Homo sapiens: one gene and its partner. The protein of the gene in region 2 interacts with the protein of the main gene of each other region in a biochemical or structural test. Each region holds a gene or a part of one and is shown on either strand. Other genes may lie near its edges.

Region 1 (7,000 bases), on a different chromosome or scaffold from region 2:
TCAATTCCTCTCCTTAGGCTATTTTAACATTAGCAGGCAGTTATGGATATTAGCACTGACAGCTTCAATGACTTTTAGCTGGTTGATGTTAGCCTACCCCTTGGCTAGAAAGGCTAAAATCTTCTCTCCCTTGAATTCTAAGTACAACATCTCTTGTTACACTGATTGAGTTTTCTCCCCTTTCTACCTGATGAGTTTCTTTGCCCCTGTAGACCAGTATGGGTGACAATATTCAGTACTGGGGTTTGGCCTTCATTCTCCACACTAAACACATGTGTTGTTAGGGGATGCCCCTTGAACAGTATATTAGTCAGCTCAGACTGCTGTCACAAAAATACCATAAGTGGGTGGCTGAAACAACAGAAATTTATTTCTCATAGTTGTGGAGGCTGAGAAGAGACCTGCCAGTAGATCTGATATCAGGTGAGGGCTGTCTTTCTGGTTTGCAGATGACCATCTTCTCACTGTGTCCTTACATAGTAGATAACAAAGAGAGAGAGAGTAAGCGCTCTGGTTTCTTTTTATGAGGGTGCTAATCCCATTCATGGGGGCTCCACCCTCATGACTTAATTACCTCCCAGAGGCCCTACCTCCTAATAACATCATGTTAGGGGTTAGGATTTCCACACGTGAATTCTGGGTGGAGACAAACATTCAGTCCCCAGCAAGCAGTTCTACTATGATCCAGTCAGAAGATGGAATGTTTAGCTGTTAAATGAAGTACTTGAATGACTTGGAAGAAATGCATGTAGAAAATGAAAGTGTTACTTAATCTCAACATTATAAAACAGGCAGGAAGTTAAATGTAAGGTATCTCCGAGTTGTAAGATAATGGGCAACCTCTGTCTGACCTTGACTTCAGTTTCCTCCAAGTCTCTCAAATGAGCATCTTCCTCCTCTGAAAAAAAATAATAATTTTTCTGAAGTTTCCCCTGGATATTGGCAGTTGAGTGCCCATTGACTCAGCTTTTTTTTAGAGCAAAACATGCCAAAATGCAGTATGAGCCCTCATGTGAAGCTAGGGCTGTGGGTAAATGACTTCAACTTTAACCCTTCAAATAAACGTTTGTAGTAAAGAAGACGTGTGCTGAATCTGACTTCGTGTGCAACAATGGCCAGTGTGTTCCCAGCCGATGGAAGTGTGATGGAGATCCTGACTGCGAAGATGGTTCAGATGAAAGCCCAGAACAGTGCCGTGAGTGTAACTTGCTTTGGCCTTGAACTTTGCCAAGTTGTTCGGTGTCTAACATTTCTAAGTATTGCTTAATCTCCTACTTGGTATTCATTTTTCTTTGCCTGCCTTAAAGTTTAGGTCAATTGACTCCAAGGGCAGTCAAATCATTACCAGTTTATCAGCCTCCTTTAAAGAATGTTCTCCCTGGTCCAACAAGACTGACATTCTCTTGGGTAGCTTCACTATTGAATACTTAAAACTGAAGTCAGCAGATTCAATCAAGAACTCCTTGACTAGGTGCATAGATTTCAAATGTCTGTTTATAATAACTGAGCAGATGGTACTCTGGTCCTGGAAGCTAAGTCAAGAAGTGAGGGTTCCCTATGGGCCAAGCAAAAGCTTTTAGAAGCACAGCTTATCATACTATTAAAAAGCTATTACTGAAGAGGTAAGGTAGCTAGTAATTGGGTGATATAGTGACTCCTGACACACATGTAACCTCAAGTTACTAAAATGGAGATCTTACAGCATATTCTTAAATAAGAGAAACTTCATAGGTATGCAAGTATATACCTGTGTCCTTAGGAAAAAGTCTATGAGACCATAAAGAATGATGGTTTGGGATCATATAAATTGAGATCACACGAATGTCAAGGCAAAGAAAGTCTTAGAGTTTGAGTCAGTAGAGGCCTGCACTGGTAGAAACACTAAAAAAGGACTAACATGAACACAGTTTAGGTCTAAAGTGTGATTATGAAAGAAAATCAAATAGAAAGGAAGATAAGGCTGTTACTTTCAATTTTCTAGATAAGAAGTGAGGGGAGTAATATTGGTCAAGGCAAGTGAGTTCAAGGCCTGTGAGCTAAAGACAGGTTGTGTAAAGATTCAGCCTCAACTTTTAGTGGAGAATGACCTGGTCAAGTCAAGCATTAGGGCATGCTTCTACTTTGCAAGATGTCAATCTAAAGGACATTGTGAAGGAGGCCCATAAAGGAATCTAGGCAATAGAAGATTTTGTAGGTGTTTGACCATCTGACTTTTCATGTATTTGAGATTAGATGACAATATCTAGGTGTGCCCACTTGACATCCAACAGATAAATAGTGGTCTAGGAGCAGGCCAGCCAATAAACTTCACCACGCCAAGTAAAACAAAAGCCAGAACTGAGCACGCCATGGGACCTTGAAGGAGTGACGTGGTCAAAGCTGTCACGTACACTGCCAGGTAGCATAGGTTGGCACAGCTTCTAAGGAGTGGAGCTGATGAAAGAGCTCCCCGGGCTTCAGCCAGTTAGTAGAATTTCACCAGTGTGCCAGGCTACTGAGTCACAGGTATTAGCGCTTCCAGGCAGCACAGGAGCAGCAGCTTTGCATTGATCAGTTCTGAGGCTCTTTTGAGACTGTATATCATCAACAGATATGAGAACATGCCGCATACATGAAATCAGCTGTGGCGCCCATTCTACTCAGTGTATCCCAGTGTCCTGGAGATGTGATGGTGAAAATGATTGTGACAGTGGAGAAGATGAAGAAAACTGTGGTAAGAAGATCAGTGTTGAGTGACGTAACCCAAAGACCCTTTTCCTAAAGGAAGGGTGGGCAGGGGAAACTAATCTAAGCCTGAAGACGCACTGACATTGACTCACTTTTCAGTGACTTCACTATCTGCTCAATTACTTGTCCTTCATAACTGCCCTAAAACCCTAAAAGACATTCATGTGGCAATTGACCATCGCTTGGTGTTTCTTTTAGGCAAATAGAAATAAGAAGGTAAGTCATTCAAGGCACTTATATATAGAAGTAGCTCAGGGAAGCAGCAATTGTGTGGGCTTTTGTTTTGACAGTAATTCATGTGTCTTTTGCACTTTGGCACAATAAAATTAGAAGGTGAGTAGGGTTGGCAAACACATTCATAGGTCTAAATTTGATTGGGTTATTGGAATAAATTATTTGAGTATTATACAAGCATTTCTTTGCCCATGAACTAGATTCTGGCATAACTTTCCCAGAAAAAAAAAAAAAAAAGACACAGAAGCATGAATTAACATCTTGCCTCAGATACCCAAAGAAAAGTCTACCCAACTGGTGATACCTTTGTCTCCTGTTGCAGTTCCTGTCTCTGAAAGCTAACTCTGCTTCCTATTCTTTCATGTTTCTGGTCTTGGAAAATCTTTAATAAAATGCTGCATGTTGAAGGTGAGGGCCTGGGAAAATCACTAGGTTGAACAAACAGTGCTTTGAATGTTCTTTCAAGCTACTGCCCTTTTTATAGGGCCTCTAAAACCTACAGCTCCCAAGTCTGACAAGCATGGGCCTCCTGATATGGTAGTAGTCAAGGGAGCTCAGGGCACTTACAGTTGAAACACCAGTCTTGTGTGTAGAAGTCGCCTCCTGAGGTCAATACCACTGCACCTAGTCCAATGAGTTTTAGTGTTCAATCCTAGAATTGGGTTTTCTGTATTGGTAAGCCCTGGTGCTGCCAAGTGTTTCCCTTATAAATCTAGACTTTGCTTCCCAAGAGAGTCGTGGTCTCTATTCTAATTGCCACCAAATTGTGACCTTGAAACATTTGGCAGGAATTTAAGTCAAAGTACCAATTGGCTAGTAGGACTAGCTTATCATTGTCAGCATACCTGATTGTTAAATGGTGATTATAGCCCTGGCAGTGACTTTTTCAAAATGGAAAGTGTTTAAGACTTGTTATTCCTGATCCTTATTTAAAGGACCAAAAAGAGGAACCATATATGGTGGTATGTGGTTCACCTCTTTTGGTGACAAAGTCTTAATGCTTGTTGTGAGTATTACGTTGCATGATATTCTCAACTAGTGATAAGATCTGACAAGCAGTATGTTGATTCAAGGACAACTCAATCTCTGCCTTCCAAATTGAAATCCCTTGTTACAGTTTGTTATTTATGATGGCCACTTTTAGAATCAATTGTGGTTCTCATCTCAAATTAATTTCCAGTCTTCAACTATTTTCTTGGTTCTTTATTTCTGTTCTTCTTATTTATTGTGTGCCTTCATTTTTTGTACAATGAGACTGTACAAAAGTTCTTGATTTAACTCCATTGTAGCCTTTAAGTTGGGCTAGTAAGTTAGGATTAATGAATAAAGATCAATGTATTAGATTTTGGGACAAGAATCTTGAACGGACCAATCTTGATGCATTTTCAGTGGGGCATCCTCTCTCTTAATAGGCAATATAACATGTAGTCCCGACGAGTTCACCTGCTCCAGTGGCCGCTGCATCTCCAGGAACTTTGTATGCAATGGCCAGGATGACTGCAGCGATGGCAGTGATGAGCTGGACTGTGCCCCGCCAACCTGTGGCGCCCATGAGTTCCAGTGCAGCACCTCCTCCTGCATCCCCATCAGCTGGGTATGCGACGATGATGCAGACTGCTCCGACCAATCTGATGAGTCCCTGGAGCAGTGTGGCCGTCAGCCAGTCATACACACCAAGTGTCCAGCCAGCGAAATCCAGTGCGGCTCTGGCGAGTGCATCCATAAGAAGTGGCGATGTGATGGGGACCCTGACTGCAAGGATGGCAGTGATGAGGTCAACTGTCGTAAGTAGCTTTCTAGCATGGCATGTTCAGTTCTCTTCCCTGTATCAACTGGGACAATTTGCTGGCTTCATTCCATGGTGTTTCCTCCCTTTGTAGCCTCTCGAACTTGCCGACCTGACCAATTTGAATGTGAGGATGGCAGCTGCATCCATGGCAGCAGGCAGTGTAATGGTATCCGAGACTGTGTCGATGGTTCCGATGAAGTCAACTGCAAAAATGGTAAGGGTTTCTTCTTGTTGGTTAAGCAATGGATTGCTCTGACCAGACCCACTCATGGAATCTCTCTTCTTTGTTTCTCTTTGTAGTCAATCAGTGCTTGGGCCCTGGAAAATTCAAGTGCAGAAGTGGAGAATGCATAGATATCAGCAAAGTATGTAACCAGGAGCAGGACTGCAGGGACTGGAGTGATGAGCCCCTGAAAGAGTGTCGTAAGTGTACTTGTTGTTCAAGTACAGATCCTGGAAGTTTGACACAATCCAGTATAGCTAACACTGTGTGGACCCCCCGTGATGGCTAGTTAAACTTTTGAATGTACTGAAGTTCAATTGTAGACTTCAGAGTGAAACTTTATGACTTAAAAGCCCAGGTAGGACAAACTAGTTTATAGTTTTTGTTTTTGTTGTTTTTTTTTTTTTTTTTTTTTTGAGATGGAGTTCCACTCTTGTTGCCCAGGCTGGAGTGCAATGATGCAATCTCGGCTCACTGCAACCTCTGCCTCCCGGGTTCAAGCAGTTCTTCTGCCTCAGCCTCCTGAGTAGCTGGGACTATAGGCGCCCACCACCACGCCCGGCTAATTTTTTTTTTTTTTTTTGTATTTTTAGTAGAGACAGGGTTTCACCATGTTGGCCAGGCTGGTCTCGAACTCCTGACCTCGTGATCCACCCGCCTCGGCCTTCCAAAGTGCTGGGATTACAGGCATGAGCCACCGCGCCCGGCCCAAACTAGTTTATAGTTTAACCTCCTTAAAGATAACTGATCATCAATAGAGAAACTTGACTAAATGCTTGACCAGCTGGTAACTTGCCGAGGAGTTAGATAATCCACCCTGAAATATATACCTATAAAATAAATGATTAGGTCTTAGACAAATCGTGGGTTTGACCAGGCCAACTAGATAAGTTATCACAAATAGCCTGGGTTTTAAATGTGAAAGATATTAATTGAAAATAAGTTGTCAAGTGACTACTACATTTTTATTCCAGATATAAACGAATGCTTGGTAAATAATGGTGGATGTTCTCATATCTGCAAAGACCTAGTTATAGGCTACGAGTGTGACTGTGCAGCTGGGTTTGAACTGATAGATAGGAAAACCTGTGGAGGTGAGTCTAAGAAGAAAACCTGGACCCTGCAGGTGATGGGAAAGGATAGTATGTACCTAGTAAGGTATAGGAGCAGCAAGACTAATTCTGATTTCCCTCCCAGATATTGATGAATGCCAAAATCCAGGAATCTGCAGTCAAATTTGTATCAACTTAAAAGGCGGTTACAAGTGTGAATGTAGTCGTGGCTATCAAATGGATCTTGCTACTGGCGTGTGCAAGGCAGTAGGTAAATGAACTTGGACTGGTATGGCTGTTGTACCTTTATGAGTAAGTGCCTCTAAAAGGTACAGCCAGTGACTACAATAGTCAAACTAAACATGAAATTGTACTTGAGAACAATGCTGCTAACCTCATAATACAGCAGTATAGGTCAAATAGCAGATCTCTCCCCTAGATATGTACCTTGATCATTCCTTTTGCATATGATACCATGAATACCTACCAGGTTTGCATGCTCTGTTTCCAAAACTTGAGTCCAACTCAAACAAGTGACTTATTCATCACTCACCCTGTTCTTGAAGGCTGTAACCCCACGACTGCCTTCCTAAACTGTAGGAAGCACTTGCAGGTCCCAGGGGCAGGAACTCCAGAACAGATACTACTGAGGTATTCCACAATACCTTTATTTTCTAAGTGCTCCTCTGCTGGGAGGAGGTGGTTTAGAAAGACCTTGCCTTCTTAAAGCAAAACTAAGTAACCCAGACTTCCATCTTGCAGGCAAAGAGCCAAGTCTGATCTTCACTAATCGAAGAGACATCAGGAAGATTGGCTTAGAGAGGAAAGAATATATCCAACTAGTTGAACAGCTAAGAAACACTGTGGCTCTCGATGCTGACATTGCTGCCCAGAAACTATTCTGGGCCGATCTAAGCCAAAAGGCTATCTTCAGGTAACTTTCAGTTCCTTTTGTGGTGTCTTGACATAAGTCAT
Region 2 (7,447 bases):
AAAAGTCACAACTATCAGCTCTACACCTAAACATGGTTCATTCAAATGGTGACTTCAATGTAAATCATAAATGTGACTGATTTTTTCTGATATAACTGTTACACTTTAAAGATCCAGAAGGTTAGAAATAAAGTCTCAAGCTAACATTTTACACATTTCTTGTAAGTTTAAGAAGACTTCTTGGGCAAAAGACCTTTCATTTTGGTCACATATCAAAATGGGCCAACCACAAAAGTACATGAGATTAAGTTTTCCTATTGGCAGTTCAATTCTAACAGAAGCTGTGTGTGTGTGTGTGTGTGTGTGTGTGTGTGTGTGTGTGTGTCTGAATTTTTTAAATTAATTTTCAAAAGCCTAAAAGGAAAAGAGACATACATAAGCATCACTTCATTTTTAAACATGTATTCTACCTGTAGAACATTTTACAAAAAAAAAAAAAAAAACTCTTACTTTAAGGCCTATAGCTACAGCTAGTTCCAAAATCTAAATGTTTAATAAAATAGATAACAGAAATTTAAAATCTGACACAATTCTCAAAGCTTATAATAATTTGACCTTTCATAACTTACATAATACAATTTCTCTACCTTTTCTGGTGGTGGAAAAGAGGTGGAAATTGAGATTCTCCTCCGCAATGTCCAACTTGAAGTATTTACACTTTATTTCTACTCTATGTTATCCATTCCTTTTCAGACTTAGATATGTGATTATGGTGAGTCTTAAGGTGACTTGCATTTGCTATTCAAGGGTGCAAGGGAGCAAAACCAAAGGGTGTATGATATTTTGGTGTTTTTAGTTAAGTTTTCAATATCGAGACCTTCCAAAGGATGTGGAAAACAGAAAAAATAATAATAAAGCTTTGTATCATCACATGGTCTTCCATCATAACCTGACAGTCACGCCTTTGAGACCAGCCTCACTCACTTACCCACCGTTCTCACTGAGAGATCATACCGGGCAAGAACTTTTGCTAAGAGTCGCACGGAGCAGCAGGCTGTCAATCAGGCTTTGGGTTAGGTCTGGTTGCCATCACAGTAGCTGCTCCTTCCACTTAAAGATTCTCATTATCTCAGAAAAGCACTAGATTGTTCTTGGGAAGAGGGCGTAGTAAGCACTTTTATCTAAAAAGGGACTAGTTACAGAACATTAATTTTCCAAAATTATTTCTAAAATTCCACCAAATTAAACTTCTGCTTTACAGACAAGGCTGCCACCATGCCACAAGGAAGTTGTAAAAGCACTGTTTAAAACCTCTAGGAGACGTTTATTTAGGCTAAATATTTTATAATAGATATCAAGGTTTTTTTAAAAACAGAAAAATCTTAAGGATTCTTACAATTTTTAAATGCTTGTCTATCTTAAGTGCTAGCACCCCGTAGATTATCTCCCGCCATGCCAATGATTGTTAGCCTATTAGAGATAGAAACTATTAACAGGAGCCTACTGGACAATGGTTTCTATTTGGTTGGGTATAAATATTTTGGGGTTGAAATTCTAATTAAATAGTGCCTGTCGCTGCTTAAAAGCTCTATAGGCATGAAATGTTCAGAAGTCCCAGAAGAAATACAGAAAAGAGACATTTTTTATTTTTCCACATACTCGATGTACTAGCTTAAAATACATGTACTACATAATATTATATTTCTTGGAGCTAAATTTTATTTCTTCTGTAATGTTTATTTTTGATGCAGGGCTGCATAATGATTCCATTTTTAAGATACCTCTAAATTATAAGGGATTCCAGCCTCTACCTGGAAATTAAAGCTGTGCAGATAAAATACAAAGTCATTAATAAACATCACAAAGATAATTCTAACAAGAAGCACCATGTAAAAGTAAGGCAGGAATCAGAAAAATCATCAATTACTGACATATTAAATCACACTTTCAAAAGAATAGGGAGCTGGAAGCAGCCGCTCCCTTTCAGGAGGGCTGTATGACACTGAATGAAATGCCAGGGACTCCTGGCTGGTGAGCAGCGGGAACTTTGCGGTCGAGCGGCGCGGGGCAGCCACAGACCTGGGCGCTTCAATCTGTCACCAGCCTGCCCGCAAAGCCCAGCGACAGCCCCCAACGCCCCCCCGGGGACCCATCTGGGGGGACCGGGAGCAGGACAAAGGTCTGAAATCCAAGTCCTAGGAGTAAAGAAACAAAATGCGCAGGTTCAATTTAAAGTGCCTGCGGTAAGTACGGGGAGTGAGGGGGAAAGACACCGGCCTCCAAGAATTCTCAGGCGTTTAGCACAAGCACCAGCTCATTACCAGGAGATGCGTTCGGGGAGTGGGGACATGGAGAATGAATCCCAACTTGTGACTCCATTCTCCACTAACTTTATTCTCGCTCCCTGGACCAAGCGCATCGCTGGGGCCAGGGTTGTCATGGTTCTTGTTTCCAAGGCCCCTTGGAAGAAGGAAAGGGATGAGAAAGGTGCGCTGGCGGGCGCACCCGGCGGCGGCGAGCGCGGAGGTGCTGCGGTACCTACCATGGTATTCTTGTCCCGGAACGTAGTAGGTGGGGTTGCCCGCAATATGCAGGGAAATGAGCACCTCGCCCTGCTCCCCATCCCCTTCCAGCTCCCCGTGGTGGGTGCACAGGAAAAAGAAGGGCGAAAAGCGGGGGTAATAGCCAGCCGCCGCGCGCGCCCTCAGCGTCGCCCCCAGCAACAGCGCTAGGAGGAAAGTCTGCCGGGCCCAGCCACTGCGCTCCATGCCGCCGCCGCCGCCGCCGCCGCCGCGCGCCCTACGCGCCGCTCGCTCATTCAGTTTTGGAGACGCCGGGACGGAGGAGCCACGCGGAGAGAAGGCGAGAAGAAGGCGGACGGGAGCGGAACGGGCTCGGGAGCGGGCCTGGGAGCGGGCCCCCGCCGAGAAGTTCCGCGGGAGACGGCGGCTCCCAAAGTTACTTTGGGCCGCGGGAGCGCGGGACCGGGGCTGCGGGCGCCGAGAGCGCGTCGTCTGCCGCCTCCGTGCGCCGCCGCCGCCTCTGCGCGACGCCCCTCGGCCAGGCCTGGGAAAGCGCCCGCCCCGCTCCACACCTTCTTAAAGCCCCGGGCGCCGCGTCCCCCCCGCCGCCGCCACACGTGTCCCGGCCGCTCCCCCGCCCCCGCGCGCCGCCCCGCCCGCCCCCCGCCCTCTCGGGCTGGCTCGGCGGCACCTCGCGCGGCGAGGGGCGCACGCGTCCCCGGAGTCCCCGGCCAGCGCCCGGTTCGCACCCGGGAGGACAGGGAGGGGCGCCCGCCGGGGAGCGGGACGGGGACGCTGTCGAGGACCGCTGAGCCCGCGACTCTTCTGCGAGGGACGTCAAAGCCCCGCAGAGGGCACCTCCCGTCCAGCTGTCTGAAGGGGAAGGCCAGCCCCTTTGGCCGTCAGTGTGCCCTGTTTTTCCTGGGAGGATGCGTGAGGGAAGGAGAGGGGCGGCAGGGACGGCCGCTGGCGCCGGTTTCTTTGTCTGAGCCGGCTGCGTCCCGCGCCCCTCGGGGCTCGCAGTCTGCCAGTCCGGGCGGCCCGCACTCGTTCTGGGAATCCGCCCGAGGCCGCGAACCGCTAGGGGCCCTCGCGCTCCCTTCCCACCCAGGCCCCCTGTCCCTCCCGCCGCGGCCGCCCGGCCCCTCGCGGCAGCGACAGAGCCTCATCTGTAGAGGATTTTAAAATGAGATTAAGCGAAAGTGGAATTGGCAGACTCGAGTGGTGCCTGGAAATGGTGATTTGTGCTGCTCGGTTGTGGGGAATTGTAAGGCAGGAAGGGCTGGCGGAGCTAAGATCCGACAGGCTCTCTTCGCCGGACTGTTCTGTTATTCATTGCTTCTGGGCTCTTCAGGCAGAGATGGGTGTTGTAATTTTTTAAATCAGTGTTTATTTCCTTTAAATGTCGGTTATGACCAATGGCCCTGAAATCGGGGGAGGGAAAAACGTTCAGGGGAGATGCTGGCAGCGGTGATTGAAGCGGGTGGTAATGAGCGGCTGCACATGAACTGCAGGGAAGTGAAATAATCCATAAGCACGTTTTTAACCGAGGACGGCTGGCAGGAGCCCTGCGGCATCCGGAGATGGGGGAGCGGGGTTGCCAGGTTTTAATGCCTCTCCCCACCCACCCTTGGCTTGCCACCAAGCCAGATAAACCCGCACGTACAGAAATGAGTAGATTATAAAATTGGAAGGGATAGTGCCTTTGCCTGCATTTGTGGGGCGAGGGGCGGTGAAAATCAGGGTCCAAGGGGAGACCTCTGTAATCACTTCGTTGCAAAAGGAAGAAATTGTTTTTCTTCCTCTTACTGAGACCGAATGACAGGTAGAAAGGGCCCATTTCTAGCTGGCTTCTTGTTTCCCTTACTTCAAAATCCCCAGAGGCTTAACTGCCATATAAATAATATACAGTGTATACATATATGTATGTGCATATATATATATATGATGTGGTAACAATTGCTACACTGTAGCTCTGCGGGGTGCAGGCTGTGGGGCTAGACGTACTTTAGCTTTTTAATCCTAACACCAACTGGAGAGGCAAAAAATATCCCTATTTCACAAGGGAGGAGGCACTCAGAAATGTTGATAACTTGCCCAAAGTCAGTGACAAAGGCTGGATGCAGGGCAGACTGGCTGGCCTCAGAGGCTCTTGTCCTGCACTGCCCTGCCACAGTCGACAGCCCTAGCTGGAGCAGGTGGTGTTGCCCCAAACAGAATTAGGAGATACTCGCCCACAGCTAACAAGGCTGTTACTGCCTTCCTGTCCAGTCATGTGAATATAGCCAAAGACAAAATTAATCACTTGTAGAAAGAATCCAAAACTATTTAATGTTTTTGGCTTACACTTTTAAAATGTTTAGTTACTATGCACTGAGCACCGTCCTAAGTACTATACATACTAACTCCCTTATTCCTCATAACAATACTGTGGGAAAAGTACCATTGATAGCTTCATTTTACTATGATGAAACAGCACAGGGAGGTTAAGTAACTTGTCCAAGGTCACACAGCTAGTGAGTGCTGTGACTTGAACCCAGGCAGTCTGATTTTGACACACTAACCACTGCAAATCGCCTCTAAAGAATGCATGTTGGTGTTGTTAGAGGGATGGGGGAATAATTATTCTTCATCCAGTGTCAGAATACCTCATTTAATCCTTATATTAGCCTGCAAAGTAGGTATAATTATCTTCATTTTTAAAGAGAAGAAAGTTGAGATTCATAGAAGTTAAAGGAGCTTGGGATCAAGTCTGGCCATGCTTGATGCCAAGGTCGCTGCTTAAATAAACTGTCTTTAGTAAGCGCTGACACTTGGTCCAGGACATGATTGGAATTTAATTCATATAAGGTCCTCAATTCCCAGGAAGTCCCCTTCTTTCCATTGTGTAGTGCACTCTCAGAGAAATATTCTTTCTCGTATCTCTCGACATGGCTTTCTTAACATTCAATTTATGTGACCAAGTTTATTTTTCAATCTTCCCCTTTATTGTGCTTCCTTAATTTTTACCACTTTGCTTTGCTATTACATTTGAATAACTTTTATACTGTTAGCCATGAAGCAAGCTCATATTTCTGGCTACAGCCCTGCAGTTGTTCAGTAACAGACACAAAGACTGTTTTTAAATAATGTCCTGAGTGGTGTTGAGCTGGTCAAGAGGGGAGTAAAAGTTGGTACACTCCAGTCTGCAGTCCTTAGAACTAACATGAATACCTTGTAGAGGCTCAAGTTCATATTTGTTTCATCTCTGACACTTTTTTTGATTAGGCCAGTTCAACTAGTCATTAAAAACTTTTAAATAACCTTTAGAAAATCAGAAAAATACATAAATCATATATAAAATCCATTGAACCGAGAGTAGCATCTTCTTAGTGAGCAACTTACTTGAAATCACGCAATAAGGTGGAAACCCAGGTTAGATAGCAAAACTTCCTGTTTCCCAATTCGTGTGCTAACCCTTACACCTCGTTTCTATTTAGTGAGCCATAATAAGTATCTCCAAGAATATTGGGTCTGCAAAATCCAAAAACCTTCCGAACTAATAGAAAAATAGAGAAGTGCTTTTCCAGAAAAAATGGTTTACATCAAAAACATCTGCAAAAAATAAAAGGTGATGTCAGGTGAAAATGAATAGGCTTGTGGGAAAGGGAGTTTAAAATGGAATGAGATTTATTTTTAATTAAAAGAGTTTTGAAATAGTAATTAGTCTACCAAAAGAATTAAACTAAGTATTCTTAGAAGATAAATCCACTTCTTCTTGATAAGTGGAAATTATTGCCCAGTATTTGAATAATCATAACACGATGGGAATTAAATTCATATATATATATATATTTGCTATGTGTGTGTATATATATATATATATATATCTGCTATATCTCTCTATATATACATGTATATATATACATATATCAGATACATAGCTTTTAAATTATTGGGAGGTGATTCATCCATATGAAATACAAAGAAGACATTAAATTATATTTTAAGGTTGCAAGAATTCACTCATCTGCCTTCCATTGATATTTTTTGAGATGAAGCATTAAACATTTTGGTATATGTGGGAAAGTGAGTCACTATTCTTATTTACCATGTAAAAATCAAACAAAGTTTATAAAATCAAAAAATATGTAAATATAAATATGAAGAGGGTGAACAAACTGAAATCAGTTGACTTATTAGACTCTAAAATGGTAATAAAAGGCCACATGAGAGCAAACCCAATAGCAGCTAATAAACTTATAAAATCTATTACTCATAAGACATGGTACTGTATGATAAAATTGAGGCTCCTAAGCAAAAAACAAAAATCAAAAAAAAAAACACACAAAAATAGACCCTAAAGATCAGTAAGCCTTTTGCAAATGAAATTGCACTGAGAAAGGTGGGATATTAGGGAGTTGGCTCTGTTACGTACGTCCTGCCGGAACATGTTACTTATTGCCACCCCAGATTGAAATACCATGATGAGATAAACTATGGGACAACACAAAGTCATTATATTGTAAGATTTCTGAAACAGAATCTGATTCCTCAACACTAAAAATCCCTTTTTTTAAAGTTTCTCCACTTCCTGGGATTTTCCCTGCCCCTGCTTCTCTCTGGAATGCCCTTCCTGTTTCCTGTGGCCTAACCACACATCTTCCACCCTCCTCTCCCTCACCTCACTTCTTACTTGGCTATAGCAACTCATGCTCCAAGTCTTCTCTCACACATTTTTGCATCTGAGAGATCTTTCCTGATCCCTCATCCTAAATTATGTCCTCTAGACCAGCACTATCCGATATAGTGTCCTAGTCCCCAGGTAGCTATTTAAATTCAAATCAAATTAAATTTAAAAATAAGTTCTTCAGTCACATTAACCACATTTCCAGTATCCAATAGCTAAGGGTGGCTAGTAATGGGATAATCTGTAAGGCTGCACTGTCTGTACTGGACAGTAAGTGCAGACTTACAGATTATCCCATTACTGCAGAAAGTCCTAT

Evidence for each region. The genes of interacting proteins can lie anywhere in the genome.
Region 1: the proteins of RELN (region 2) and VLDLR form a complex in vitro, tested with the Homo sapiens proteins (6 studies listed by BioGRID).

Annotation. Positions count from the first base shown.
Region 1 is NC_000009.12:2,638,787-2,645,786, forward strand, and holds part of VLDLR (very low-density lipoprotein receptor isoform a precursor), read left to right. Parts: intron 1-1,072; coding exon 1,073-1,195; intron 1,196-2,590; coding exon 2,591-2,713; intron 2,714-4,373; coding exon 4,374-4,745; intron 4,746-4,841; coding exon 4,842-4,964; intron 4,965-5,050; coding exon 5,051-5,173; intron 5,174-5,947; coding exon 5,948-6,067; intron 6,068-6,170; coding exon 6,171-6,296; intron 6,297-6,787; coding exon 6,788-6,959; intron 6,960-7,000. UniProt on the Homo sapiens protein: Multifunctional cell surface receptor that binds VLDL and transports it into cells by endocytosis and therefore plays an important role in energy metabolism.
Region 2 is NC_000007.14:103,986,649-103,994,095, forward strand, and holds the start of RELN (reelin isoform a precursor), read right to left. Parts: upstream 3,011-7,447; 5' UTR 2,709-3,010; coding exon 2,483-2,708; intron 1-2,482. UniProt on the Homo sapiens protein: Extracellular matrix serine protease secreted by pioneer neurons that plays a role in layering of neurons in the cerebral cortex and cerebellum by coordinating cell positioning during neurodevelopment.